7 linked regions of the Homo sapiens genome follow. The protein of the gene in region 4 interacts with the protein of the main gene of each other region in a pairwise test. Each region holds a gene or a part of one and is shown on either strand. Other genes may lie near its edges.

The links.
Region 1: the proteins of RBBP8 (region 4) and RBL2 interact in binary tests that used the Homo sapiens proteins (3 or more experiments, as listed by UniProt).
Region 2: the proteins of RBBP8 (region 4) and TOPBP1 interact in a two-hybrid assay, tested with the Homo sapiens proteins (one large-scale study listed by BioGRID).
Region 3: the proteins of RBBP8 (region 4) and EXD2 interact in binary tests that used the Homo sapiens proteins (3 or more experiments, as listed by UniProt).
Region 5: the proteins of RBBP8 (region 4) and LIMS1 interact in a two-hybrid assay, tested with the Homo sapiens proteins (2 studies listed by BioGRID and IntAct).
Region 6: the proteins of RBBP8 (region 4) and IGFBP7 interact in a two-hybrid assay, tested with the Homo sapiens proteins (one large-scale study listed by BioGRID and IntAct).
Region 7: the proteins of RBBP8 (region 4) and LMO4 interact in binary tests that used the Homo sapiens proteins (3 or more experiments, as listed by UniProt).

What each region holds. Positions count from the first base shown.
Region 1 is NC_000016.10:53,437,471-53,440,970, reverse strand, and holds part of RBL2 (retinoblastoma-like protein 2), read right to left. Parts: intron 1,956-3,500; coding exon 1,825-1,955; intron 1-1,824. UniProt on the Homo sapiens protein: Key regulator of entry into cell division. Directly involved in heterochromatin formation by maintaining overall chromatin structure and, in particular, that of constitutive heterochromatin by stabilizing histone methylation.
Region 2 is NC_000003.12:133,620,442-133,623,941, reverse strand, and holds part of TOPBP1 (DNA topoisomerase 2-binding protein 1), read left to right. Parts: intron 1-484; coding exon 485-631; intron 632-748; coding exon 749-851; intron 852-3,500. UniProt on the Homo sapiens protein: Scaffold protein that acts as a key protein-protein adapter in DNA replication and DNA repair. Composed of multiple BRCT domains, which specifically recognize and bind phosphorylated proteins, bringing proteins together into functional combinations.
Region 3 is NC_000014.9:69,211,998-69,215,497, reverse strand, and holds part of EXD2 (exonuclease 3'-5' domain-containing protein 2), read right to left. Parts: intron 1,370-3,500; exon of another isoform or gene 1,325-1,369; intron 1-1,324. UniProt on the Homo sapiens protein: Exonuclease that has both 3'-5' exoribonuclease and exodeoxyribonuclease activities, depending on the divalent metal cation used as cofactor.
Region 4 is NC_000018.10:22,995,828-22,999,327, forward strand, and holds part of RBBP8 (DNA endonuclease RBBP8), read left to right. Parts: intron 1-546; coding exon 547-635; intron 636-1,792; coding exon 1,793-1,907; intron 1,908-3,500. UniProt on the Homo sapiens protein: Endonuclease that cooperates with the MRE11-RAD50-NBN (MRN) complex in DNA-end resection, the first step of double-strand break (DSB) repair through the homologous recombination (HR) pathway.
Region 5 is NC_000002.12:108,537,470-108,540,969, forward strand, and holds part of LIMS1 (LIM and senescent cell antigen-like-containing domain protein 1), read left to right. Parts: intron 1-3,500. UniProt on the Homo sapiens protein: Within the IPP (ILK-PINCH-PARVIN) complex, binds to F-actin, promoting F-actin bundling, a process required to generate force for actin cytoskeleton reorganization and subsequent dynamic cell adhesion events such as cell spreading and migration.
Region 6 is NC_000004.12:57,100,386-57,103,885, reverse strand, and holds part of IGFBP7 (insulin-like growth factor-binding protein 7 isoform 1 precursor), read left to right. Parts: intron 1-3,500. UniProt on the Homo sapiens protein: Binds IGF1 and IGF2 with a relatively low affinity. Stimulates prostacyclin (PGI2) production. Stimulates cell adhesion. Acts as a ligand for CD93 to play a role in angiogenesis.
Region 7 is NC_000001.11:87,338,880-87,342,379, forward strand, and holds part of LMO4 (LIM domain transcription factor LMO4), read left to right. Parts: intron 1-656; coding exon 657-753; intron 754-1,167; coding exon 1,168-1,323; intron 1,324-3,500. UniProt on the Homo sapiens protein: Transcription cofactor. Plays a role in establishing motor neuron identity, in concert with MNX1, acting, at least in part, to disrupt LDB1-LHX3 complexes thereby negatively modulating interneuron genes in motor neurons.

The sequences.
Region 1 (3,500 bases), on a different chromosome or scaffold from region 4:
AAAAAAAAAAAAAAAAAGAACTGAAAAATAAAAAAAATAGAGTTCCTGTTTCCCTGTACAGTGACCAAACTTGGTATACCAGACTTCAAATTTTCCCAATGATAAGAATAAAATGTTGGCCAGGCATGGTGGCTCACACCTGTAATGCCAGCACTTTGGGAGTCCAAGGCGGGTGGATCACCTGAGGTCGGGAGTTGGAAACCAGCCTGGCCAACATGGTGAAACCCGTCTCTACTAAAAATACAAAAAATTAGCCAGGTGTGGTGGTGCGCATCTGTAATCCCAGCTACTTGGGAGGCCACAGCGGGAGAATCGTTTGAACCTGGGAGGCAGAGGCTGCAATGAGCTGAGATCACGCCCCTGCACCCTGGCCTGGGTGAAACAGCAAGACTCCATCTCAAAAAAAACAGAATGAAATGTTATCTTTCTACTTTGAAAGTCTTTATTAGTGACAGTGAATATCTCTTCCTGTATCTATTAGCTATGTGAATTATAACCTTTGTGAAGTCATGTTCTTTATTCATTTTATTAACCCTGTTAGTAGTTCCTGATATAATTCTAGATACTGATTCTTTGGTCAATGTAACTCAGGATGGAGTTAAAGGTTAAAAAAAGATTACTAAAATTCACAACGTCAGCTAAAACATGACATTGTGAATTATTTTATTTTATTTATTTGTTTTGAGATGGAGTCTCGCTCTTGTCACCCAGGCTGGAGTGCAATAGTGCTCACTGCAACCTCTGCCTCCTGGGCTCAAGTGATTTTCCTGACTCGGCTTCCTGAGTAGCTAAGATTACAGGCGCATGTCACCACACTCGGCTAATTTTTGTATTTTTAGTTGAGACGGGGTTTCACCATATTGGCCAGGCTGATCTCCAATTCTTGACCTCAAGTGATCCACACACCTTGGCCTCCAAAAGTGCTGGGATTACTGGGATTACAGGTGTGAGCCACCGCCCCCAGCCTGCTAATTATTTTAATAGTAACCTTCTTTTTTTTTTTTTTTTTTTTTTTTGGAGACAAGGTCTTGCTCTGTGGCCCAGGCTGGAGTGCAGTGCTGCTCCATCATTCAGGGCTCAAGTGATCCTCCCATCTCAGCCTCCCAAGTAGCTAGGCCTGCAGGTATGCACAACCACACCCAGTTAATTTTTTTATTTAGTAAGTGATTTTTTAACCATTAACTCCATAAATTTTGACAGTGGTAATTTCCCCCAAAATGCTAAACATCATTTTTCCACTTATCTTTAATAAGCCATGTAAGAAAATTCACCTAAAAGGCACAAAAAATAAATGTAATCAATTTAATTACACAACAGATAAAGCAATTTCTGCCTCTTCTTTTAAACATATTTGACCCTTTCTAAAATGGATTATAATCATGTCATTTATCCTCCAAACAGGAAACTGAGAAATACTTACATGTTCCATTTATATTAAGACCACAAGTCCTGTGCACATATTTCTAAGTATAATAGCAAATAATATTTTATTTACCTTTTCAACTTGGAGTATCTCCTAAAGTTTCTCAATATCCTTCATTTCTCCCAATATTACACAATGTCCTAAACTTTAAAAATAAATTCTGCCATACAAGTGCCTAAAACATTAAAATTTAAATATTTTCACCAAAGAAGTAAAATATAATGGATATTAACTGTGATATAAAGAAAGGAAAATCATTAGATGCTAGTTTTAGCATCTAATTTCACCAGTCCACAGGTACAAATGCTCAGAAAATGATAAACAGAGATAATTCTTACTATCACTATGATTTATGAGCTTACATTAGCCATACTCTACTTGTCAAACTCTAACATAGTTACCTCTGCTCTGAACATTTCAGGATTCTAGTTAAAGATACATAGTTTCCTTCCACTGTCCCTTTGCTTACAGTTGGAACAGATTTTCTGCAAGCCACATATAAGGCACATGCTAACCAATGAAGATCATTTCCCTGTAAAAGAAAAGAAAATTGATTTTTAGTTAAAAAGCTACATATAAATATTTCAATATTTTTAAAAGTATGTTTAAATTGAAAGTGTTGTTTATATTTTTGTGGGAAACTTAGTTTCAATGATGACCCTATCTCATACGCTCTTTTTTTTTTTTTTTTTTTTTTTTTTTTTGAGATGGAATCTTGCTCTGTCACCCAGGCTGGAGTGCAGTGGCGCAATCTTGGCTCACTGCAACCTCCACCTCCCAGGTTCAAGCACTCCTCCTACCTCAGCCTCCCAAGTAGCTGGGACTACAGAAGTGCGCCACCATACCTGGCTAATTTTTGTATTTTTTGTAGAGACAGGGTTTTGTCATGTTGCCCAGGCTGGTCTTGAACTCCTGGCCTCAAGTGATCCATCCGCCTTGGCCTTCCAAAGTGCTGGGATTACAGGTGTGAGCCACTGTACCCAGCCCCGTAGGCTCTTCTTATAATGTGACATTAACATTATTCCACTGAGAGGTAGAGAGGGTTCCCTCACCTTGGACCTGGGCAAGGGTCTGCGTTCCCTCACACTGATTAACTGTCTCTATCAATAATTGCAGAGGTAGAAGTGAAACTATGTAATTCTAAAAGATTATACAAGGCAGTATAGATTCCACTTGGTTCTCTCTCTTAGGACATGTGCCTTCGGAGTCCTGAACCAACATGTAAGAATTTAGCTACCCTGGATCACCATGCTGGTGAGACCACATGGAACAAACATACAGAGATGCCCAACGAGCTCCAGCTGTGCCAGTACCTAGTTGCTCAAGTCTTCCAGGTGAGGTACCAGTCATTTTGACGCAGAAACATGACATCCACACTGTCCCCAGCCTGAATTCCTTACTCACAGAACCTGTGACCAAAACAAATTGCTTTCTGCCCCTAAGTTTTAAGGCAATTTGCTATATAGCCATAGTAATGCAAACAATATTATTGTTTATTTTTATTTATTTTTTATTTTTTTTGAGATGGAGTCTCACTGTGTCACCCAGGCTGGAGTACAGTGGCTCCATCTTGGCTCACTCCAAGCTCTGCCTCCCAGGTTCACACCATTCTCCTGCCTCAGCCTCCTGAGTAGCTGGGACTACAGGTGCCCACCACCACGCTCAGCTAATTTTTTGTATTTTTAGTAGAGACTGGGTTTCAATGTGTTAGCCAGGATGGTCTTGATCTCCTGACCTCGTGACTCGCCCACCTAGACCTCCCAAAGTGCTGGGATTACAGGCGTGAGCCCCTGCGCCTGGCCTATTGTTTATATTTTTAATCTTGCTCAAAATCTAGAAAAGTGATAGAAATACAAAATTAAGCTTGAATGGATATTCAGCCACTAATTTTATACCTAATCAAAACACATACATGAATACATAAAATTTATTTGTATAACCAAATGAGACTATTGTGGATCCACTACCAGATATCATTCAAAAATAATAATTTTTAAGGCATTGTTTGTAAAAGATCGTCACAATTCTTTTTACTCAAGAAGTGATACAACTTTCCTCTCCCTATAAAAGCGAGGAA
Region 2 (3,500 bases), on a different chromosome or scaffold from region 4:
TAATAGTCTTGGTTAACTGTACACATTTCAGATCTTTGGCATCAAAAACTTAACATCTTTAGTCCTTAAATACTTAACAAATCTTTAATGGATACTCTTTCTAATTCTCCATTTCCTTGTACTAATTAAAAATGTGATATGAATGGAAAGTTTATAATTATTTGGGGAAAATTTAACATATCAATAGAGTTTAGATCTGTGTTTCTTTTTTTTCCTGGGTATTCTCTGGAGGGTAATTGATACCTTTGCAAAAGCACAGGAATGGTTTCAGATTTTATACTTCAGTGGATATGACATTTAAAACATGAGGACAATCTGTCATTTGTATGATGCAAATTTTTCAGTGTAAACTACTTTTCAAACCAGTTTTGTGAACTTTTTGCCATATTACAGTATAATGTATTGCTTGTCCTTATCCTACTTAACATCATCTATTCATTAAGATTTTGTCAGTCCTGTCTTAAAGCACACCATTGTATTGCAGTGTGCCCAAGAGTGTAAACATCTTCCTGAATCTCTTTATCCACATACTTATAATCCCAAAATGAGCTTGGATATCAGCGCAGTGCAAGATGGCCGGCTCTGTAATAGTCGACTACTCTCAGCTGTGTCTTCAACAAAGGATGATGAGGTAGGAGATATGGATGATACATTTACCCCCTCTTAAGCTAAAGGTATAATCATATATTGCTATGAAACCTTATACAGTGGCTTGGTTTGAGAATTTATAATTTTTCTTTTTCAATAGCCAGATCCTTTGATTTTAGAAGAAAATGATGTAGACAATATGGCCACCAATAATAAAGAGTCAGCACCATCAAATGGAAGTGGAAAGAATGACTCTAAAGGAGGTAAAATATTTTATTTTTTAATTAAAAAAATTTTTTTTGAGACAAGGTCTCAATTTTTTGTGGAGATGGGGTCTTGTCATCTTGCCCACACTGGTCTGAAACTCCTGGGCTGAAAGGATCCTCCTGCCTTGTGAGCCACTGCACCCAGCTGTAAAATATGTTTAAATTACTAAATACAAGCAAAGCATATATTAGAGGATTGATTTGTGGTCCCATGCTGATCATTAAGTGATAATTTGCAAAGTTTTATGTAGTTTAAGTGTAAAGCTTATGAAATTTATGAAACTAGGTTTTTATGGAGTTAGTGTGATACAGCCCTATTCCATTAAAGGTAGGTGAAGTTGGTGATTTTTTAAAAATCTAGTCTTTGGTCCAGTTCTTTTGAGTGATTTTCAAAAAGTTTTCTTATATGTACAATATATTTTAACATATCCACATGGTTTTAAAGATACAAAAAGACATATGAAGAGTTTCTTCCACCCTTATTCTCCAGCCCCCCAGTGTTATTAGTTCCTTATGTATCCTTCTAGAGCTGCTTTATGCATATATAGCCGTAAATATGTTTTTCCCCCATTAAAAAAAAACAAACAAACACATAGGCTGGGCATGGTGGCTCGTGTCTGTAATCCCAGCACTTTGGGAGGCTGAGGCAGGCAGATCACCCAAGGTCAGGAGTTTGAGATCAGCCTGGCCAACATAGAGAAACTCCGTCTCTACTAAAAATACAAAAAATTAGCCGGGCATGGTGGTTGCATGCCTGTAATTCCAGCTACTCGGGAGGCTGAGGCAGGAGAATCGCTTGAACTCGGGAGGCGGAGGTTGCGGTGAGCCGAGATCATGCCATTGCACTCCAGCCTGGGCAAGAAGAGCAAAACTCTTGTCTCAAAAAAAAAAAAAAAAAAAAACATAAATGGTGGACTACTATACATGCTATTTCATACGCTGATCTTTTTGTTACCTTGGGTAGTGTTTTATATCAGTAGATAACTAGGAGCTTCTTTAGTCTTTTTCTTTCTTGCTTTTCTTCCTTCCTTCCCTCCCTTTCCTTCCTGTCCCCCTTCCTCTCCTTTCCCTCTTCCCTTCCTTTCCCTTTCCTTCTTTCTTCCCTTTTCTTTCTTTTTGGGCAACTGTATTGTATTCATTATGAATGGTCCCACTTTGTTTAGGCATCCATTCTTAATAGGCATTTAGGTTATTTCTACTTTCTTGCTTTTATAAATAGTACTGCAGTGAATAACCTTATACATGGATGTCTTTTAATAGATTTAATATGTTCTGTTTTCCTTACTCATTCTAACCTACCAAAGCTTTCCCTATGACTTACCTATTTGGTTAGTCTCACTCTGTTCATTCCAAATGCATTTATTTAATACTTACTCCAGAGTTTAGGCTTTAAAGAAAACCAAAGGTAAATACAGTTGTCTTGTCCCTTGGTATCCATGTGGCAGTGGTTCCGAGGACTTACCTCAGGTACCAAAATCCACAGATGCTTAAGTTCCTTATGTATAAAATGACATAGGATTTGAATTTAACCAATGCACATCCTCCTGTATACTTTAAATCATCTCTGGATTACTTATAATACCTAATGCACTGTAAATGTTTTGTAAATAGTTATATTTTATTTTTTTTACTGGTACTTTTAATTGTGATATTTTTCATTTTTATGTCTTTAAAATATTTCTGATCCATACTTGGTTGAATCCATGCATGCAGAACCGGTGGATGTGGAGGGCTGGATGTATGTTGTGGTCTGTGTTTTCAAGAGCCTTTGGGGAGTCTGGGCACGGTGGCTCACACCTGTAATCTCAGAGCTTTGGGAGGCAAAGGCAAGAGGATTGCTTGATGCTAGGGGTTCCAGATCAGCCTGGGCAACATAGTGAGACCTTGTCTCTACAAAAAATTTAAAAAATTAGCTGGGCGTGGTAATGTACACCTGTAGTGCCAGCTACTCAGGTTGCTGAGGCTGGAGGATCACTTGAGCCCAGGAGTTAGAGGTTATAATGAGCTATGACCATACCACTGCAGTCCAGCCTGGGCCACAGAGCAAGACTCTGTCTCTAAAAAATTAAAAGAATCTTTGGGAAAAATCAGACACATACACAAATGACTATAAGACATCTCAGAGTGTAGTACATACCATGAGAGTCAGAAGCAGGCAGGGAGCTTTACAGAGGGATAATCACTACAGGTCTTGATGAAATGTCTTTGAAGGGGGCCAGGCACGGTGGCTCATGCCTGTAATCCTAGCACTTTGGGAGGCTGAGGTGGGCAGATCACCTGAGGTCAGGAGTTCAAGACCAGCCTAGCCAACGTGGCGAAACCGCGTCTCTACTAAAAAATACAAAAATTAGCCCGGCATGGTGATGGGCACCTGTAATCCCAGCTACTTGAGAGGCTGAGGCAGGGAGAATTGCTTGAACCTGGGAGGTGGAGGTTGCAGTGAGCCGAGGTCGCACCACTGTCCAGCCTGGGCGACAGTGCTAGACTATCACCAAAAAAAAAAAAAAAAAAGTATTTGAAGGGCTTCCTAGTTATTTCATATACAGTGCTTGTGGTAAGGGCTGCTTTTTATGTTCTGCAGTATTCATAGTTTTAGTACATTACTATAGCCTGTAGTTAATATTCAGTAAATGTCAAGTCAATAAG
Region 3 (3,500 bases), on a different chromosome or scaffold from region 4:
CAGTTTGGCATCATCTATAAAAGTTAAAATTGTGCGTGCATGTGCACACAAACTCCTTGACCCAGAACTCCACTCATAGACACATACGCCCAATAATGAGTGTAAATGTTCAATTGCACCATTCTTTGCAAGAGCCCCCAAATGTAAATGATATATTGTATTATACACACACACACACACACACACACACACACACACATATATTTTTGAGATGGAGTCTCGCTGTGTCACCCAGGCTGGAGTGCAGTGGCACACTCTCAGCTCACTGCAACCTCTGCCTCCTGGGTTCCAGCAATTCTTCTGCCTCAGCCTCCCAAGTAACTGGGATTATACCTGTATGCATCACCACACCTGGCTAATTTTTGTATTTTTAGTAGAGACGGGGTTTCACCATGTTGGCCAGGCTGGTCTTGAACTCCTGACCTCAGGTTCAGGTGATCCACCCACCTTGGCCTCCCAAAGTGCTGAGATTACAGGTGTTAGCCACCACGCCCGGACTATACTGTATTTTATATATATATATAAATGTCCATCAATAATAGAATGGAAAAATAAGTCATGGTATATTTATACCATGGAACACTATATGGCAACAAATCATAGTCACACCCAACACAGGTAAATCTCACAATGTTTGGAAAAAGAAGCAAGACAAAAAAGAGCACATACTCGATGATTCATTTATACTAAATTTAAAAAACAGGTAAAATTAAACTATAGTGATGAGGGAGGCATGCCTAAGCAGTAAAAGTATAAAGAAAACAAGAAAGTAAATAGACTTTCTTGAGACAGGATAATGGTAACCCTCAGAGGGCAGTGAGGGGACAATGATTTCAAGTGGACACAACAGGAGCTCCTGGAGTCCTAGCAATCTTACGTTTCTTGACCTAGTTTCTAGTTACACAGCTGAGCTGTTCTCTTTACATAAATCATTCAGTGTTTATTTTTGTTCCAGGCACTTTTCTTGATGTGTTATATTTCACAATAAAAAAGTCTAAAAAAAGACTCAGGGGCAGGTTAAACAGATTAGACAAAGCCAAATAAAGAAAAAGGGAATTGTAAAAGAGACCAGAAGAAATCGTATATAATGAATCTAGAGAGACTAAGATATGTTAAATATTAAATTCCAGCAAGAAAGAAGAAAGGATAAAGACAATCTTTAAAGAGAAATTTTAAATTGATAAAACATCAATCCTATTATCCAGATATTTTTCTGAATCCCAAGCTAGAAATAAAACACCTAGACTCATCATAGTGAACCTTCAGAACCATAAACTCAAAGAGAAGATCTTAAGAAGAGATATGAAAAAATTACATTACTTACAAAGAATCAAGGTATAGACTGACAGTTATCTTCAACAGCAATAACGGAAGCCAGAAGGCAATGGAATACTATCCTGAAAATGATAAACTGCCAAACCAGAACTTTACACCCAGAGAAAATCTCTTTAAGATTAAAATCAAAATACAGACATTTTCAAAATGATGAAGTTTATTATCAATGGGCCCTAAACTGTTAAAGAACGATTTTAAGGAAAATGATCCCCAAAAGAAGGTCAGAGATATAAGAAAAATGTAAGCAAAGAAAAAGGTAAATACAAGGTCAGGAGATCGAGACCACCCTGGCTAACACAGTGAAACCCTGTCTCTACTAAAAATAGAAAAAATTAGACGGGCATTGTGGCACACACCTGTACTCCCAGCTACTCAGGAGGCTGAGGCAGGAGAATCACTTGAACCCGGGAGGCAAAGGTTGCAGTGAGTCAAGATTGCACTAATGTACTCCAGCCTTGGAGACTCTGTCTCAAAAAAAAAACAAAAAAAAAGGTAAATACAGCTGGATGCAGTGGCTTATGCTTGTAGGAGGACCAAGTGAGAGGATCACTTGAGGCCAGGAGTTGAAGACCAGCCAGGGCAACACAACAAGACCCCATTTCTACAAAAAAAAAAAAAAAAAAAATTATCCAGGTGCAGTGGCACATGCCTGTAGTCCCAGTTACTCAGGAGGCTGAGGCAGGAGGATCACTTGAGCCCAGGAGTTTGAGGCTGCAGTGAGCCATGCTCACACAACTGCACAACAAAGCAAGACCTCATCTCTTAAAAAAAAAAAAAAAAAAAAAAAAAGGGCCCAGCATGGTAGCTCACACACACCTGTAACCCCAGCACATTTTGGGAGGCCAAGGCAGGAGGATCACTTGAGCCTAGGAGTTTGGGACCAGCCTGGGCAACACAGCAAAATCCTGTCTCTGTGAAAAAGAGATGGCATGTGGTGGCTCACACCTGTAATCCCAGCTACTCAGGAGGGAGGATTACTTGGGCCTGGGAGGTTAAGGCTGCAGTTAGCTGTGATCGCACAACTGCATTCCAGCCTGGGCAAAAGAGCAAGACCCCATCTACAAAAAAAAAAAAAAAAGAAAAGAAGAAGAATACAGGAAGGTAAACACTTTGGTAAATCTAAACAAATATTGACTATAAAACAACAACATAGGCCAGGCACGGTTGCTCACGCCTGTAATCTCAGCACTTTGTGGGACTGAGGCGAATGGATTGCTTGAGTCCAAGAGTTTGAAACCAGCCCGGACCACACCGCAAAACCCCGTCTCTACTAAAAATACAAAAAAATTAGCCAGGTGTGGTGGCGCACACCTGTAGTTCCAGCTACTCAGGAGGCTGAGGTGAGACAATCATCTGAGCCCAGGGAGGTCAAGGCTAAAGTGAGCCAAAATCCCACCACTGCACTCCAGCCTGGGTGACAGAGTAAGATCTTGTCTCAAAAAAAAAAAAAAAAAAAAAAAAAATCAAGAACCATTGGAACCAAGTGACAGTGGTGGCACATACCTGTAGTCCTAGCTACATGGGAGGCTGAGACAGAAGGATCATTTTAGCCCATGAGTTCGAGGTTCAGTGAACTATGATAAGTACCACTGCATTCCAGCCTGGGAAACAGAGTGACACCACCCTGTCTCTAAAAAAAAAAAACAATAAAGAAGAACAAAAATAATAATCGAATAAACATTTACATAAAAGTGAATGAAAAGGAAAGCAAAACAGGAATGGAGGAATAAATAGAGCAAGAATGGATGATTTTTCATTTCTGTCTTCGTTTTTTCTTTTTTTGAGACAGGGTCTCACTTGCTCTGTCGCTCAGGTTGGAATGCAGTGGCGTGATCTCGGCTCACTGCAACCTCCACCTCCTGGGCTCAAGCAATTCTCCTGCCTCAGCCTCCCAAGTAGCTAGGATTACAGGCGCCTGCTACCACGCCTGGCTAATTTTTGTATTTTTAGTAGAGGGGAGGATTTCACCATGCTTGCCAGGCTGGTCTCGAACTCCTGACCTCAAGTGATCTGCCCGCCTCGGCCTCCCAAAGTGCTAGGATTACAGGCGTGGGCTACCGCGCCCAGCCTATTTTTGTTTTCTATTCATCTCTTAAATTTATTCTATCTTATTTTTACAAGGAAGGAAGCCATGAATGACTTTTTCATTGAGTTTTTTATGACAG
Region 4 (3,500 bases):
TATGAACAATGCTGCTATGAACATTTGTATACAGGTTTTTGTGTGGATGTATGTTTTCATTTTTCTTGGATTATACCTAGGAGTGGAATTGTTGGGCCATATGCCAATTCTACATTTTACCTTTTGAAAGACTGCCTGTTTTCCAAAGCAGCTACACCATTTCACATTCCCACCAGCAGTATGTGAGGGTCCCAGTATCTCCACCTCCTCACTAGCACTTGTTATAGCTTTTTGATTTTTGCCATCTCGTGGTTTTGGTTTGCATTTCCTTGACTGCTGATGATGTTGAGCATCCTTTCATGTTTATTGGCAATTTGTATATCTTCTTTGGAGAACTGTCTATTTAGATCCTTTGCCCATCTTTAATTGGGATATTTGTCTTTTTATTATGGAGCTGTGAGAGTTCTTTATATATCTTAGATATAAGTCCTTTACCAGACATATGATTTGCAAAAATTTTCTATTCTTTAGGTCCCATAATATTTTAAAGTGATGAGAATTTTTGAAATCAGTTTTTTAATTGCATGCTCTTTCCCTTTACCTAAGATGTATCCTTTGAAAATATCCAGTGGAGTATAGATCCGGGAGCAGACCTTTCTCAGTATAAAATGGATGTTACTGTAATAGATACAAAGGTAAGTTAAAAAGTAAAACCAAAACTCATTTGACTTTTATTCCAATGAGTTGTTAGTCAACCTCCTCTCGTGACTCACTGTATCACCTTAAGATAATCAGATACGTCTTAAAACCTACATGTATTTATGCAGAAAATTAAGAAATAAAAATGCTTATTCTTCTAACTTTATGGTATTTTTTAAAGGGTAATACTTTCTGACTTTAAAGGCCTTTACTGAAAAATATTAATATAGTTTTTAAAAGAATGCAGTGGGCAGGCGCAGTGGCTCATGCCTGTAATCCCAACACTCTGGGAGGTCGAAGAGAGAGAATCACTTGAAGCCAGGAATTCGAGACCAGCCTGGGCAATATAGCAAGGCCCTGTCTCTATAGGAAATTTTAAAGTTAGCTGGGCATGGCAGTGCATACCTGTAGTCCTAGCTACTTGGGAGGCTGAGGTTGGGAGGATACCTTGAACCCAGGAATTCGAGGCTGCAGTGAGGTATGATCACACCACTGCACATCCAGCCTAGGCAACCAGAGCAAGACCCTGTCTCATAAATTAAAATAATGCAAAATGCTGCATATCTTATATAATTTTATCATTCATTAAAATAATTCATCATGTCTTCATTACCTTTAAAATAATGTACCATAAAATTCATTTTCCAAGTTGACTATTTTTAAAAGTTAAAATTCATAGTGGAAATAGTTTTTTGTCTTGTATTTAGCTTCTGTGTAGTTTCAGAAGTTCTCTTTCACTTGGTAGCATATTAATAACAAAGTATTTAACATACGCTGAGTAATATATGCCTATCAAGAAATTTAATTTAATTTTTGAAAGTGTTCTTAGTGTACATTGATGTTCATTACTATAAGGCAAATTGGAAAATAAAGGCAGGAAAAGTTCAGGGGTGTTTAGTGGTAAATAATTCTCCCTTTCCTTGGCAGCAGTCCTTCTTTTCCTAGGCTTGATTATATTGAAGCTAAAATGTTTTATAAGCAGTAAAACCTAAATCCTTACCTGTTCGTAAAGTATAAAAGCAAATATAGCTTAATGCTTAAAAGTTGTAAAATGTATGTTATGTATATTTTACCAAAATGTTTTGTAAAAATTAAATATAAGACCATAAAGGAATAATTGTTAAAATTTTTGATTTTTAAAATATTTATTTAGGATGGCAGTCAGTCAAAATTAGGAGGAGAGACAGTGGACATGGACTGTACATTGGTTAGTGAAACCGTTCTCTTAAAAATGAAGAAGCAAGAGCAGAAGGGAGAAAAAAGTTCAAGTAAGATCTGTTTTTGTTTTGTTATTTTTTTTAATAACGTTGTGTGAAGTTTGTAGTTGTACCATTGCACTGATTAGCTCAAGTGACCTCTTCACCATAAAGCAGGTTTTTTCCTGCTCTGTTAACTTTATGTTCCTCTTAGGAAAGCTCAGTTTCAGTGCGTCAGAAAAAAAGTCTTTAACCAAACTAATTTCATTTCAGAAAAGATTCATATGGCTTCCAGGGATTTGCAAATGACAGCCAGCTACCAGTTTTGTAAATAAAGTTCTACCAGAGCACAGCCTTATTCATTTCTTTATGTATTGCCCATCGCTGTTTGTTCCATACAGCTGCAGAGTTGAGTAGTTGATGCAGAGACCTTATAGCCCCACAAGCCTAAAATAGTTATTTTCTGACCCTTTAAGAAAAAGTTTGCTGATCCCTGGTGTAGACAATTTTTTATAAGTGGTATAACAGTAAGTCTTGAGTCCTGTGTTAGAATTAACGTTTTCTAAAGAAATTTGATAAGGAAAGAAAGGAGAAATCTACCGAGAAGTCTTAGTATAGTTTTACAGGTTAACATTCAGAATGATAGTGTATATGCTGAGTTAATCTGCTGTATTCCACCTCTACTGATAAGGCAATTTGGCCAAATTAGTGGTCTACAGCCCTTTGTAGTGAGAAACTATTAATTCTTTACCCAAAGTCTTGATTTTCCGGAAGAGATGAGAACAATAGGAGGATTTTGGTTAGCAGTACCTTAGCAACATTCCTAACTGTAGAGGCACATGACATGAGAACAGCTAGACTATGAACAGTTGTCATTTATCATCCTTATGTATTGAAGAGCGAGGGCCTGCCACATGGGGAAGCAGTGCTAAAAGCAGAGACATTCCCCAGTGATCATTTGTTAGAAGCCGAATACATTGAGGCTGGGTGTGCATTCCTTATCTTCTGCTGAATTTTCTATAGTCTACCTGCTCAGAGCAAAAAATAAAATAGTCTTGCCCTGGCTTCTTTTGAATCTACTTATCTACTGCTGCCTTAAATGCAGTAAATCAAAGAAAACTTTAGTAGTCTTTGCCTTATTTGTTCTTCAATGACAAATAGCAAACCATATGATGAAGCAGATGGTTACCTGGGTAGAGAAGCCAATACCTATTAAAAGAAAAAACCTTCACAGTAGTTTATTGCCATTTTATGGCTTGTATGACACTAAATAACTCTTCTTAAGAGGATACTTTGCTTTTAAGATTATTTTGTTCCTGATACTAGCCTCTGATCATGTTTTTCTCATTTTTGTAGAAAAGAGAAAATCTAAAGTATGACCACTTTAAATCTATTCAGAAGACAATAGTTTCTCAAATTTATTTGATGCAAGTATCATGTGAAAGAGAAATTAGCACTTGGACTAATGAGGGGAAATTATAGAGATAATTTTGGCTAATAAAGTGCTATGGATAGTATTGCTACATAATGAATGAATCACTTGAATAACTCAGAGGATTCAAACAATACCATTTTCTTATCTTCATAGTTCCTGTGGCTCAGGAATTCAGGAAAGGCTTGGCTGGTCAGTTCTGTTTCAGGGTCTCATGCAGTTGTAGGCAGATG
Region 5 (3,500 bases), on a different chromosome or scaffold from region 4:
AACTTTCTGCCTTTCAGGATTTTCCCTGATAAGAAAATGGCCAGTGCCATTATGAAGAGGGACAATGCCATGGGCCTAAGTGTATTCACACTTTTCAGTGCTCTGTGCCTGTTTGTATGGTGAGAAAATCGAACTGTTGATTTTTAAGAAAGCTAAGGAAAGTTTGGTGGTACAAAAGATCATTTCAGTTCTGGTGGTTCCGGTTTTTGCAGGCTTAGAGAAAACTGTCCATCAGGATTGTGCTGTCTTGATTTTATTTGATCATTCCCACCCTTTTCCCTTTGCTGTAGCCCCTTGACCTGTCTCCTGGGCAGTTCTTTCCTTTGCTAAATGTGAGTACAACAAGTAGGCTTTCCTTTCCTCCTAGAGAGGGGGACCTTGGAGCCCCTCCACTGGGTCAGAGAAACTTCCATAGCTGCAGCAGATCAGTAACAGGAGAGCCGAGCTTTACTCTGAAAGCCTCTATTTTCAATAATGTTGTGTTTGCTCTTTGGATAATCATTTAAATAAATAAACCTCAGTATAGGTCATGTTCTTACCTAGGTTTGCACTTAAATAGAAGGAAAAACATCTCAAACCATTTTGTTAGTTTTATAGTTCTCGTAACTACACTTTAAGCTGTGGTTTTCCACCCACAGGGATGTCATCTACATTATATGCTGGACTGTTGCCACATTGTCTTCCAAAAACTTTAATTTTAAGACACTTGAGAAGCAGGAGCTGCACTACCTGTTGCCATATACTGTGCATTCTTCAGCAACAGAGGTTTCCTTTTCACTCTTTCTGATATAATCTCATCTCTTTTATTTGATCATATCACACATTTCCACCCTGGAGCTTACTGCAGGAATGAGTAAGGGAGTCATTTTCCTGCATCTTTTTTCACGTTGGAGCACGTTTTGGAGCTTGATGAGTCTTCAGTGACATTTAACAGTGGGGCGGGACAGCTGCAGATAAAGCAAGTGCTGAAGAGTGCATTCTGTGAGAGGTAGGAAGAAAGGTGAAGGCAGTAGTTCAGCTGCTGGGAGTATGTGCTTGGCAGTGGGAGGCACGGGACTCAGCATCAGCACACCAGGAATCCAGGGCTTTCAGGATGTCTGAGTAGCAGGCAAGGTAAAGCAAGATAACAGACAACATGCATTTACAAGTAATGTTTACACATACTTTCCCTTTCTACAAAAATGGAATCATAGTCATACTATTCTGCAATTGCTTTTTTTAGTATTAAAAAAGTTACGGGAAAACATGCAAAACAAAATTTACTATTTTAACCATTTTTGAGTGTACAGTTCTGTGGCATTATGTACATTGACGTTGCTGTGCAACCATCACTACCCTTCCTTCCAAGAACTTTTTCATCTTCCCAAACTGAAACTCTGTGACCAGTAAATACCAACTCCCCATTTCTTGCAATTGCTTTTTTACTTCAACAAGCTGTCTTAGAGCGGTGTATCTGGGTTTACCTTATGTTTTTTAACCTTAGTTTTAATGGCTGCATAGTATTTCACAGTGTACATGTGATATGATTTGTACATCCAGTCCTTGACTAGTGGTTATTTGGGTTCTATTTTTTAATTATCACAAACACTTTGAACATCTCTGCCAGAGTGTTTTTTGTTTTGTTTTGTTTTTGAGACAAGGTCTCACTCTGTCACCCAGGCTGGAGTAAAGTGGTGCAATCATGGCTCACTGCAGCCTCAACCTCCTGGGGTCAGGTGATCCTTTCACCTTAGACTTCTGAGTAGCTGGGACAACAGGTACATGCCACTATGCCCGGCTAATATTTTGTATTTTTTGTAGTGACAGGGTTTCCCCATCTTGCCCAGCCTAGTGTTGAATTCCTGGCCTCAAGCGATCCGCCCTTCTCGGCCTCTCAAAGTTCTGGGATTACAGGCGCGAGCCACTGCACCCAGCTACCAGAGTTTTCATAGCTTTCTGAGTGTAGAGTTAGTATGTGCATGAGTGTTTGGGTCCATGTTCTAGTCCTAGTTCTGTCCCTTCATGGCTCTTTGACTTTGGCCCTGTCAGCGTCTTTAAGCCTCAGATTCTTAATTTATAAAATAATCCCACCTGTCTCAGAGGTTGTTGTGATAACTAAATATGAAGGCAAATGCAAATATTTCTGAAAGGATACCGATGAAATTTTTAGTGATTGTTGCTTCTGGAGAGGGAGTCTAGGCACCTGAGAATCCAGGATGAGAGGGACATTTTTTGTTGTATAGCTTTTTGTACTGTTTTGATTTTTAAAATCGTGTATGTTTTCATTTTTAAACCATTTAACACCATGCCAGGAACATAGTAGATGCTCAATGAAGTCATCATTTCCCATCATCCTGGTTCTTTTCCTCCGGACTTATACTGCTGCTAATGGCACCTAACATGGTTGCTTTTGTTTCTTCCTGTCCTTCCCTCCCTATAGCCACCTTCTTGCTGAGTTCTTACCTTCGAATTTTCTCTTGAATCCATCGTTTTCTTTTTTCACTCCTTTCTTACTGATTTCCTTTTCACCCTGGTTCTGAAAATCTTTCAAATGAACATAAGATGATAGTATTAAGACTGGGAAAGACTTGAGAGAATGCAGAGCCAGTGTCCTGTGGACTGTAAACTTATTCCAACTGGCTTGAAAAAAAAAATCTATGCACATACTAAGTGTTTGAAGTGGAACAAATGATGTTTTGTGAATGTTTCTAATTTTCATTTAACAGGTGATAAAGTACAGATTCCTTTTTTTTTTTTTTTTTTTTTTTGAGACGGAGTCTTGCTCTGTTGCCCAGGCTGGAGTGCAGTGGCATGATCTCGGCTCACTGCAGGCTCCGCCTCCCGGGTTCAAGTCATTCTCCTGCCTCAGCTTCCCAAGTAGCTAGGACTACAGGCGCCTGCCACAACACCTGGCTAATTTTTTGTATTTTTAGTAAAGACGGAGTTTCACCGTGTTAGCCAGGATGGTCTCTACCTCCTGACCTTGTGATCTGCCCGCCTCGGCCTCCCAAAGTGCTGGGATTACAGACTTGAGCCACCGCGCCTGGCTGATAAAGTACAGATTCTTTTAAAGGGTTTGTGGAATTCGTGGTAGTATTTATATAGTGCATGCTTTATCTGTTAACGTGCTAAAAAGACAATCATGGTGACATGAAGATCTAAGAAAATTTATTTAACATTTAAAAAGTGGGTTTATATGTGAAAAAGTTGGAACCTACTGAACTCATGCACTTTAGTGGGTCCCCTGCATTAGCCCTTTATTTAAATACACTGCTTCTTTATTTTACAGGACAGGATTTGCCTAGAAGGTAAAATAGTTTATTCAAGGCCGAAAGTCAGTTAACAGCAGGGTTAGGAATACAGCCCAAGATGTGGTTGTATTGTGGGGTCTCCTCTGCTATATTACGTTGGTTTGCTCTGTTACTTTATTCACATTGCATTGTTACAGTTTGTTGTGTGTATATATTTTATCTTTTTGTCTACAGTATAGAGTAAATACCTTGAGGACCAAGACCTATAGC
Region 6 (3,500 bases), on a different chromosome or scaffold from region 4:
TGAAAATTGCCAGCCTGGGCAACATAGTGAGACCTCGTCTCTATAAAAAAAATAAAAAAATTAGCTGGGTGTGGTGGCACACACCTGTAGTCCCAGCTACTTGGTAGGCTGAGGCGGGAGGATTACTTGAGCCCAGGAGGTCAAATCTGCAGTGAGCCATGATCATACCACTGCACTCCAGCCTGGGTAACAGGGCAAGACCCTGCCTCAAAAAAAAAAAAAAAAGAAAAGAAAAAAAAAAAAGAAAAGTTCTAAGATCATAGACTTTAAATGTTGTTACCACACACACAAAAAAGTGTATGAGGTAATGCATATGTTAAATAGCCTGATTTAGCCATTCCAAAATGTCTACATGCATCAGAACATCATGTTGTATACCATATATATACAATTTTCAGTTATCAGTTAAAACAATTTTTTAAGAGAAAGGAGATAACCAGAGCATAGCCAGCAGAAGGACTCGCATGAGGTTTGGTGGGACTGCCTAGGGAGAAGGAGGCAGCTGGCTGCGTGACAGAGCCCAGTGATAGGGGAGGGCCTGTGACCCCTTAAGGAGCTGAGACGCTGTCACAGAGCAATGGGAGCGCTGAGTGATGGAGCTGGATTTGTGCTTTTAGAAAAGCTTTGTTGGCTGCTGTTGGGAGAATGGATTGGAAGGGGGTGAGACTGCAGTCAGAGACTCCCATAAGGAAGCTGTTACTGTAATCACAACAACAGATGCCTACACTCCTTCCCAAGACTTCCCTCTCTGATCTTAGAAGCATTGTCAAATCTGGGTTCCCAGCCTGCCATGGCAAGCTGCTTGCTACTTGGGAGTGAAAAGCCCTTGTGGAGCTTTTTCTTATTCGGTGACTGCTCATAAAGTGCCTTCACCTCGCTTGCCTTATTAGCCAGTCCTGCCTCCAAATTACCACCACTTGCTCCTTTCAGGAGTCTCTTCCCCCTAAAGTCCCTATTACTCCTTCTCTCTGCTTTCAGATCAGAAACAGAAAAAGTCACCTTCCCTAAGAGTCTGCTCCAGTCCAGTAGAAATGCTTTAAAATTTTTCTGGCCTCAGCTGCCCTTCTTGAGCACAGAAATTTCTAGAATATTGAATGAATCACTGGTTCTTTATAATCATTTTGTCCAGTTTCAATCACTGCATTTTAGGAAAGATTTGAAAAACTGAAGGACAAAGTGGGGCCTTAGAGGACTTAGGATTCTTTCAGAGGAAAGTAATCTAAAGAACAAGTTAATGTTTCTTCATCGTTTGGGAATTAGTTATTAAATGGAAGATGCCTGAAAAATTATTCTCTTAATACAGTTCTTCAGGAGGACAGCATTAAAAGGCCTGGAATTAAATAGCCACAAGGCACATTTAGATGACACAGCAGGAAGAACTTTCCAGTAAAAACTATTGAATAGGATACCGTGTTCAGGCAGAAGTCAGGAGACTCTCTTTAGGAGAGCTGAGAAATAACTTGAGGGGGAGGGGCCACATCTGGGGGAGGATTTTATAATTTTTAAATCTCTTAAACTATACAGCTTTGAGATGGAATGATTAAGCTGAGCAGGCATTTGTTAACATCCTGAAATACGATTTCCATCCTGTCCCTAGAGCCTGCCCTCGGGGTCCACTGTAGACTGGCCTTCTAGAAGAAACCGCCTTATAAGGCTCTCTTGGATAGTTCAGTGACAGAACACCCTTGGATGGAGTCCAAGGCCAGCTAGCCTTCACTGATTCAAAATTCCTCCCTACAGTGGATGAGATTATGATGCTTCCTTTACCTCAAGCCACCCCTACCCCACAAACAATCTGACCTCATCTGTGTTTTTCATTGTTAGACAAATAACATCTTGTTTTTAGCAGCTGGGGAACCCTGAATTATCGTCAAAAAAATTTTTAAGCCAGGGAATATGAGTGTAACCTTTATTTGAAATTTAGGAGTGGCACAATTAGAAAGCTTTGAAATGGAAGGAGACTTAGGTATATGTGAATTAATAAGCCCACTTATTTAAGGTAATTTCAAAGATTTCCCAGTGAGTCTTTTACTCTTATGTGGGGATAGCAGTGGAGGACTAGAAATGTTCAAGGGAAGCTTCCCCCAGCCTGTCATATATGGCTTTTCCAGGTCAATCAAGACCGTCTCCTCCACCAGGCCTCTGAGAGAAAATGAGATCAGAAGAAAAAAGCCAGGATGATAATGGGGGGAGGGGGGGAAACGTTTACTTATTTATTTTTTTTACTTAAAATTGATTGTGTTAAATAGTTGACCTCTGTTTTATCCCAAGTTGGATTAATGGCAAAATGATATGGCCCTTTTGAAAAAGCTAATGTGTTGAATTGCCTTTACTGTTTTACAGAGGAGAGCAGTCAAAGTTAATTAGAAACAGCTGGAGCTAACAGTAAGCCTCACCCCCATCAATGTCCCTACCAGGAGAGGGTTACCAGGGAGAGGAGCAGTCCCGGGAATCCAGGGAGGGGCCTCTGGTCCCAAAAGCAGGCCAGAGTTGCAGAGAAGTTTTGTGTCTGAAAAATAAGAAAGGTTCATTTCAGGTGAAACAGACCTAGGAACCCTGTGTTGACAAAGCCCCATTCATATGATATGAAGTTCCCACAGTAAAGAGCACTGACAAGGCCAAGGCCAACCCGACAGGTTCAAAGCAGGCTTGGCCACTGTGAAAAAACAACCCCCTCAAAACTTCAGGAGAATGTATATAATAAATGAAGGTACAATTTCATACCTTCACAGGATTATTGAGAAGGTCAAATTACATAACAGATATGAAAGCACTGTGTAAACTATGCGGACTATGCTGCACCAAATAACTGTAAAGAATTATTAACTAGACTGTAAATGCCTTGAGGGCAAGGAATGCATCTGCAACGGGTATTTGTGAAGTACTTGACAGTTTGCTAAGGACTTCTGTGGATTTTCCTCATATGCTACTCATAACAACCCTGGAAGGTAAGGGGAATTGTTATCCCAAATTCCAAATAAAGACACTGCAGGTCAGACATCACACAGGTGGTAAATAGCAATTCTGGTACTTACTTTAGATATTCTGCTACAGGCTTGCTATTCAAAGTGTGGTATGTAGACCAGCAACATTGACTCTCTGTGCTATCTTTCTTTTTTATAAACTCGGAATTATTTCAAAATAAGAAGTTTCTAACAAAAGAGATTCAGAAGAGTCAAACCCTTGGGTGTGAAAAAGTTTTAGGAAGACTTTCCTGAATTTATTTTGCCTATATTTTGTTTCTGTTGAATGAGCAAGGGGGTTATATGATATATTTGTGTCTAAATACATCTAAAAGAGCTCTTTCATTCGCATAAAATAAACATGCTGTATGATAACAAAGTTTATGTCAGAGTTGAGATGGCTCTTTATGGTACATATATGCTGTGCCTTCTAAAAAATGTCATATTATATTCAGTGAAAGATGATGTTTCTTAAAATGAATGAATGTCTCTGAGGTGGCTAACATTAGTCCTTCTATAGCCAGATTAGCAATCTTA
Region 7 (3,500 bases), on a different chromosome or scaffold from region 4:
GCAGATAGAGGGAAGTTGGAGCAAGCATTTCATTATCAAGAGAGAGAGAAGGTTAGGATGAAAGAGATGAGCAGAGGCAAATCTTAAGTGTTGACACCATGATTGAAAAGGTTAACCCATACACATTATATATCAACCTGGATAGCAGAGAGTTTCTAATGGAAAGTCTGCACTGATGGAGGTTTACGGGAGTTTCAATACACTGAGCATGATGTCTTCTTAGATATACAATCAAATCCTCTTAACCCTTTTGATGACTCATATCTGAAGATATGATTAAAGTACAAAAGAGTTCTTCATATAATTTCAAGGACACAATGCATTTAAACTCCAGTCATGAATTGTATCTTTTTTTTTTTTATGATGAACCTAGTAATCTGATAAAATGTGTGTAGAACAGAATTGTATTTGCTAGAGGTGTAAGTCAATATTTTGATTAAATCTGGGGCATCCTCTGCGGTAGGCAGAAGTTTGTTGTCCCACAAAAAGGATTTTTCCCAGATTATGTAAATCACTCAGAAAATCTGAGGCTTGAGCCTAAGAATTCAGCCTGTCAAATGCATTCCAAAGGGATGCCCAGAGTCTGGGGGTGTTTTTCTTTCTTTTTCTTTGGTTTAGGATTATTCACTGGTGTCAACCGTTATTCTTTGTTTCAGGTTATTTGGAAATAGCGGTGCTTGCAGCGCTTGCGGACAGTCGATTCCTGCGAGTGAACTCGTCATGAGGGCGCAAGGCAATGTGTATCATCTTAAGGTAGTATTTGCATCTCTCTTTTTTTTTTAAAAAAAAAATCATACCTTTCCTACCTACATGGGGGCAAAGCATTTCTCCTTGGTATGAACTGTTTTCTCAAGCTGCAGACACTTGAAGGAATGATTGAAATTGTAGCATGGCAGTGATGGTTACACATCCACATGCACAGACCACGCTTCCCCTATGCCACAGACAGAAGTACACATGTATTTGGATTTGTCCCCATTTAGCCTGGTCCAGTTGATAGCAATTTGGCTTACTGTTTTCTGGAGATCTGTCAAAGGAAGAAAAAACGCTAAACCCTAAGTGTCTCTGTACTTGACAGATACCTGCTTAATAACAGGTTATAAACTTGTGACCAAAAAAAGACTTAATTTTTACCTTGTTTTCAGTGGGTTTGTTTTTCCCTTTCAGTGTTTTACATGCTCTACCTGCCGGAATCGCCTGGTCCCGGGAGATCGGTTTCACTACATCAATGGCAGTTTATTTTGTGAACATGATAGACCTACAGCTCTCATCAATGGCCATTTGAATTCACTTCAGAGCAATCCACTACTGCCAGACCAGAAGGTGAATACCCAGCAATTACTAATAAGCTTTATTAGAGCAAGTTGGAAGGTTCAACCTCTTAACCTAGCAAGAGAGTTTTCTTGGGTGGTTGTATTTTTGCATGCCCTTTTAAAGAAATGTAGATTACTAGTTGTACATAGAGTGTTCAGAAGTAGGATAGCTGATTAAATTGTGAATCCTTTCTAGTTAAAAAAAAAATCCTGACTTTGTTATATCTGTAGCTTCACTCACGTTGAACATAAGATTATCACATGCAAAAGCAAACAAAATGTAAAGCTTCCATATAACTGGTTATTTATTCCATTTGACAATTTTGAAATTCAGAAACATGATGTGATAGGTTATTGTGGAAGAAAAATTAGAACATTTATGGTAGGAAAAGAGAATAAAGATCTTTGTTATGAAAGAATGATTTCTGCGTTAGGAATAGCAATCTGGACACCTGCCTTCCAAACCCAATTTACAATTCATTTACTTTTTAGAAGAGTAATTTTACAAAACATTCTGTAACTTCATAAGAGGGCATTTTTGTTCATTGGCGGTACCATAACATTTGAATAAGTTATGGCTTTTAAAACCAAGTTCTTGTTCTTGCTAACCCGCTTAGTGCCATTAATAGTGCCATTAGAAATTATGTATCTTGATTCTTGATCCACAACTTGAAAATCCTTGTACCAGAATTAAAAATTAGGAAATTATACAAGTATACAAATCATGTAGTATTAGAAGATATTCCAGAGGGAAAATTGGTGATCAACAGTTGTCCAGCACCCCCAGTACTGGATAGTTTTAGATCTATTTTAATCTCCTTAATAAGTCCTATAGCTATGCAAGTGAGTGCATTTTGATAACTGCTGTGCCTAATTTGTAACAATTACTGTCAACCTTCAGTTAAGAGACTGTTCATTCCACACCGGCCCAGAAAAGAGTGAAATGTATGACTCGTGTGCATAATTTTATTCACATCATATTTCATACTGATTATGTATTGATGACATTGATTCATTTACTCTTTACAGCGCCACTTGCATGGATATTAAATCTTATTGACCACAGATGAATTTTAATTTCAGATTGGTGATAGATTTTTCCATCAGCTCTGATAGTATGTTTGACTTTTTCATCATTAACCCAGGCAATCACACAGCACTGAGTTATTGCATTGAAACAAAAAGTGCACACTTCACTTGGTAATTCTTTATGGATTTACAATAGGAACTTCATTAATGTCTGTTGTAAGGATCACAAAAAAAACAACATTTATCTGCAAATAGGAATTTAGCAAGCTTCAAAAATCTCGGGGAAAAAAATAGACTTTTTTGTCTTCTGTAATGCATTTTCTTAGTGCGGTGGTGGAGGTGGGGGTTTGACAAATATTTGAAAACTTTTAACCATTAAAATTATGCTGCCATATTTTGATGCTTATATTTGCCCTTTTCCCTTGCTCAAGTTTATGAGGTAATTTTAAATGTATGTTCTGTTTCTTAGTGTTAATTACATGACATTATGTGCACTTTAATTTACTAATATGGGGAGCTACATAGAATAACCATTTTAAGAATAAAAGTTGAACTTTTTAATTGCAAACTAACCAGTCACTGCTGATGAGGTATTTCAAGCTTCTTCAAGGAGTGCCAAGACATATAAATGCTTAAAGATTTTTGTGATTTGGATTCTAATGAAGTGAATCTGCAGGGCAGAGTTGAGAACAATGAATGAGCAACATAAATATTTGGAGATACCTATTCAGAATAGAGGTAAAGCTGTTTGTAGTTACACTTGGTAGCAAAAAAGAAAAAATATGCTAGAAATAAAATGGTAGACCTTCTCTCCACTCCTTCTGATGTAAAAGCTTAATTTTTCCCCGAGTTAGAGCTTCACTTTGTTGCTGGTTTTATACCATTTCTTTCTCTGACTTAGCAAAGTACTATACAAAAAAATGATTGTTGCAGTTCACCAGCATGCATGGTGAGAATGAAAGGATGTAGAGATGAGATGGAAAATGTTGCTAGATTGTGAAGCACTGAATACAGGCAATAGCAGTGTTAGGTAGGGACCAAGTATAAAGCACACCTAAGAAATATGAGCAGGATTTCATACCATCTTTTATAGTATAAGATGGCATAAATTTAGAGGTGTTAGGGAGGAGAACTGCAGAAAAACCAGGTTTACCTGTT